Regions from separate parts of the Homo sapiens genome. Here region 2 is linked to region 1. The links come from fine-mapping of genetic effects on gene expression. Tissue or cell type: whole blood. Region 1 holds a variant in brackets; the other region holds the start of a gene. All regions are shown on one strand. Distances are between the middles of the regions.

The links. PIP is the estimated chance that this variant, and not a neighbour inherited with it, causes the effect.
Region 2: it holds the start of AAR2, and the variant in region 1 is fine-mapped to the expression of AAR2 in whole blood (TOPMed, PIP above 0.99).

What each region holds. Positions count from the first base shown.
Region 1 is chr20:35,987,105-35,989,863 of GRCh38, forward strand. CNBD2 (cyclic nucleotide binding domain containing 2) reads left to right here. Exons shown (of 12, transcript NM_001365709.1): 7 at 291-429. Among named protein-coding and RNA genes, the nearest start is that of CNBD2, 20 kb to the left of the region's middle. The variant G/A (reference allele first, on the strand shown) is at 1,676.
Region 2 is chr20:36,235,158-36,237,657 of GRCh38, forward strand. It overlaps AAR2 (AAR2 splicing factor), which reads left to right and starts at 1,321. Exons shown (of 4, transcript NM_001271874.2): 1 at 1,321-1,346. It overlaps LOC105372602 (a long non-coding RNA gene), which reads right to left and starts at 1,309. Exons shown (of 3, transcript XR_936695.2): 1 at 1,201-1,309.

The DNA.
Region 1 (2,759 bases):
GAGGAGCAGAGGTGAGAAAAGCACAGAGGCTGGATCACCCAGGGGCATCTGAGCAGCAGTAAAGAGGGGAGCTTGGCTGGAGGGGAGGGCCTTGGGAAAAGGAGGAGGGAGCCAAGGTGATAGCAGGTAGGAGAATGGCTACAGGCAAGGCCAGGTAATTGGGCAGGTAGCAGCGAAATCTTCCACCCAGGCATCCTCCACAGGAGAAGAGTATGTGCCCTCTGCAGATTGCTAAGGTCTGGGCACCTTGTGTGATGGAGTTGATGAATTCTAACAGGCTCTTCCCACAGGAAGATGGAGCTGTTTGCATCATGGTCTGATGAGAAGCTCTGGCAGCTGGTAGCCATGGCGAAGATAGAGAGGTTCTCGTATGGGCAGCTGATCTCAAAAGATTTTGGAGAGTCACCCTTCATCATGTTTATCAGCAAGGTGAAAAGTCTGGGGGTTGGGATGAGGGTGAACCTCTGAGGAGCATGCCTAAGATCATGTCCTGTGACCTGATGGTCAGAGTTTGAGCCCTTTTCTGCAACCTGTGCAATTCACTTCCTTCTCAGAGTTTCCATGTCCCAGCTGTAAGAGGCCTGCCTCTCACAGAGCATGGCTAGAGACATTAGATATATGGCTATTGTGTTAGAAAGAGGACCAAGGGATTCTCCCGCCTTGAGCTCCTAAGCATGCTTATTTACATATAGATGCATATTTAAATTATGCATTTGGCTGTTGAATCTTAGTGATGCCAGATCACTTTTAAATTTATTTATTTATTTATTTATTTATTTTGAGACAAGAGTCTCGCTGTTGTCAGCCCAGGCTGGAGTGCAATGGCACAATCTTGGCTCACTGCAACCTCTGCCTCCTGGGTTTCAGCAATTCTTCTGCCTCACCCTCCTGAGTAGCTGAGATTACAGGTGCCTGCCACCATGCCCGGCTAATTTTTGTACTTTTAGTAGAGACGGGGTTTCACCATGTTGGACAGGCTGGTGTCGATCTCCTGACCTCAGGTGATCTGCCTGCCTCGGCCTCCCAAAGTGCTGGGATTACAGGCATGAGCCACCAGGCCCAGCCTATTTATTTTTGAGACAGAGTCTTGCTCACTCTGTGCCCCAAACTGGAGTGCAGTGACGAGATCTTGGCTCACTGCAACCTCTGCCTCCTGGGTTCAAGTGATTCTCCTGCCTCAGCCTCCAGAGTAGCTAGGACTATAGGTATGTGCCACCATGCCTGGCTAATTTTTTTTTGTATTTTTAGTAGAGATGGGGTTTCGTCATACTGGCCAGGCTGGTTTCAAACTCATGGCCTCAAGTGATCTGCCTGCCTCAGCCTCCCAAAGTGCTGGGATTACAGATGTTAGCCACCACACCCAACCTTAAATTATCTTTAAATTGTAAAAGTGATATGACCACATTAGGAAACTTTCTGGAAAAAGGGAAGAAATCATCCATAAACCCATCATCTCAGAGTAGAGTTTCAAAATGGAATTTCTTGGTATCATGATTTTGTTTTGTAAGGCAGACTTTATTCAAAGGGGCCATAGCCATAGGTATAGGGACCACTGCAATGGAGTCTTGCAGCCAGAGACAGAGATTGGACTCAACTCTCAGTATCGTAATTTTTATGGCTCCTGCAACAAATTGCATTCCAAAAGGAGAGCCCCACCTTATCTAGTGTCCAGGAT[G/A]TACATTTTTGTTGGTGCCATCACAGCTCTGCCAGCCTTGCATGTCATTTTTTCAAAAGTTTTCTAGTTTAATAGGTCGCAATTGCTGCCATACTGAGGATTTGATATTTTTTCTGATTACTAGTGAGATTTATCATGTTTGTTTATGACCTACATTTTATCTTTTGCAAATTGCTTCACGTCCTTTGCCACCTTCTCTGTTGGTTGATAATGAAAAGAAAATCTCCCATTTCTCAAGTGCTTACTGTATGCCAGGTTCTATGTTTCACATGCTTCATCTCATTTTAGTCTCTATAGCCCGGAGGAGGTTAGTATTGTCATTATTCCCATTTTACAGAGGAGGAAACTGAGGCACAGTAAGGTGAAGTGGTTATCCAAGGTCACACAGCTGATGAAGTGCAGAGGCAGGGTTCAACCCAAGTCTCTCTGACTGCAAAGATATTTTCAAGAACTTGGATTTAGGATTTGGGCTGACCTTTCTGTCTGGTTCTTACAGATTAAGCCACCACAGGCATTTGTTGAGTTTTTGCCAAGGTCATGACACATTGGTCCAGGCTCTGGAGGGATACAAAGATGAAAAAGACTGGTTTTCTCTCTTTATAGATCTCCTCCACCAGATTCCACACATAGACAAAGAAAAGTGTCAATGCCAAGTACCAAGTGATTGGTGCAAACTCTGCAAGTTACAAGATTTCAGGAGAGGGAACTCTCTAAAGGCTGGAGGCTTTAAGAAGGGCTTCCTGGAGGAGGTGAGGTGGGAGATGAGCCCTGACATATTGAACCATTAGGCAAAAGGAGGAAGCAAGATTGGTTGTGTGCTGGCACTGGCTTGTACCTGCCTATGAGAGCTGATTGTTAAATTTTCAGGAATTTTGGTAAACATAGTAATTATTACAAATTAGATGCTATAAACCTACAATTAAATAAGTTATATGGAAAATTAGGAGCTGGGCATGGTGGCTGATGCCCATAGTCTTAACGACTCAGGAGACTCATGCAGGAAGATCATTTGAGCCCAGGAGTTTGAAAGCAGCCTGGGCAACATAGCAAGACCCTATCTCTAAGAAAGAAAGACAGATGAGAG
Region 2 (2,500 bases), 250 kb after region 1:
AGACAGATTGGCGTGTCCAGCTGTCACTGAGGAAATGTGACAGACAAGCTAAGGAGCAGCAGCACAAGAGATAAGAACAGACAGCCCTTGGTTTGCATTCTAGCTCTGCCATTCTCTGGCTGTGTAACATCTCTTTGAACCTCAGTTTTCTCTTCTGCAAATTGGGAATACACATACCTTACAAGGGTTAGTGCAAGGATTATAAATACCCAAGTGGGCCGGGCACGGTGGCTCATGCCTGTAATCCCAGCACTTTGAGAGGCCAAGGTGGGCAGATCACCTGAGGTCAGGAGTTCGAAACCAGCCTGGCCAACAAGATGAAACCCCGTCTCTACTAAAAATACAAAAATTAGCCAGGCACGGTGGTGGGCGCCTGTAATCCCAGCTACTTGGGAGGCTGAGGCAGGAGAATGGCTTGAACCCAGGAGGTGGAGGTTGCAGTGAGCCGAGATAGCGCCATTGCACTCCAGCCTGGGTGACAGAGTGAGATTGCGTCTCAAAAAAAGAAATACCCAAGTGGCCTGCCCTAAAATCACATAAGCCAATTCTTGGCAATAAATCACTTAATATAGATCTCCTACTGGCTCTGTATCTTTGGTGGAACCCTGATTAATAGTGCAGGGTTAGACCCACAAATAGTTATTTATTAATACCAAATTATCATCATTATTAATTAAATGCATAATATATGTACTCAGCTGAGCTTTTGTGCCTGGCTTTGTGCTCGGTTCCAGGGAAACAGTGAGGAACAAGACAGGCAGATTCCTTCCCTAGTGCGTTGATAGCCTGACTGAGATGTTAGGACTTGGCCTGCAGGAAGGACACGGGGTGATAATGGCCAGAGGGACTGAGGTGGCGACCGCTGCTGCTGCAGCAGCGGAGGCTGACGCTGGTTCTCTCTGGGCTGGTGGCTGGGTTTCTGAGGCTCTCCCCGAGGGCTGAGTGTGACTGGAAGCTGAGACACTGTGACCGGGATAGAGACTGGCTGACAAAGACAGTGACCGAGCGCCTGACTGGCTACTTCTGAATAGTAGCCACTGGTACAAGCCTTGGCTGTGCTTTAGTGACCATGACTGCTTGAGCCCAAAGTAAGATGGCTGGTGGCTGTGTTTCTGGACGGGGATATAAAATGCATAGGTTAATGAAAGTTGTTCACAATTCAGAAGCTAAAACGAGAAACTAAGAATAACAAAAGGCAACCTTGCATCCGGCGGAACCTGCAGGCACGGGCCATTCTTCCCGCGACCCAGGGCTCTGCCGGACCGCTTCCCCCGTCGCTCCAGTCAGACGCCAAAGCTGGAGAACTTCCGGTGCGTTTCCGCTGTACCGGAACGTGGGGCGAGGCGGTGAGTGTGGCCTCCTGGCCTCTTTTTCCTTTCCTGATTCCTTGTGTATGTGTGGCTGGGCCGCCCCTCTTCTCGGCTCAGAGTCACGGAGTGCCTTGAACTAGGCCCACCTCGCCGGGGCGGCTGGTTCTCTGTTTGTGGGACGCTGGTGTCTCTGGAGGCCCTTCCTGAGAAGCCGTCGCCAGAGTTACGTCGCGGTTTTCTTAACTTTAGAGCCTGGGGGCCGGAGACCCTGATTGCACTCGACCTGGCTCTGCCCTACTCTCTGCGTGACTTCCAGTAAGGTCTTTCCCCGAACTGAGGCTTTGTTTCTCGTTTACAAAATGGATATCATACTTGTATTAAATAAATGTTTACTAAGCGTTGAATCTGTGCTAGGGATACAGCAGGACTCAAGTCTCGTGGCGATGACAGCCTTCAATCAAACATCCAAAACTGCAGTTGTGATCATTGAGACGGAAAGGTACAAGGCACCCCAGATTATATCACAGGAGACCTGACCTAGCCCCAGGGCAAGGAACCTTTACTGAGGAGGTGAATATTGAGCTGAGATCAGAAAAAAGGATTTGACAAAGTGGGGAGGGAAGAGTTTTCTATATGGAGACAGCCTCCAATTTCAGGTTCTGAAAGAGGCCGTTGTGGCTGGAACAGAGAGCTTGTGGGGGACCATTGTGTGACACAAGCTAAAGGGGTTGCCAGGAGTCAGACCGTGCAGGCTTTGTAGGTAATAGGAAGAATTCTGGTTTTTCAAGAACCATATGGGAAACCACTCAGAAGCTGACATGGGTGGTGTTGTGATTAGATTGGCATTTTGAAAAGGTTACTGCTGTTGAATGGAGAATGGGTTGAGGAGCAAGCACTCTGAGTGAGGGACGATGGTAGCTTGGATTAGGGAGGTGGTGGAGAGAAGTGGATGGATGTGACTTTAGGTGTTCCAGGACTGTGAGGAACTCACAGAGCTGTCAGTGACAGGGGCTGGTAGACTGCAGAGTTCTATGCATATTTAATAAACGTTTTCCTAGCATCTCCTCTGTGCTAGGCCCTGTGCCAGCTGCTGGAGATATAGTGAATAGAATTACAGACTGGTGGAATTAGCATGAAAGAAACGTCATTATCAAGGAGGAGCACACAGATGTCACAAGGGAAAATGGCTA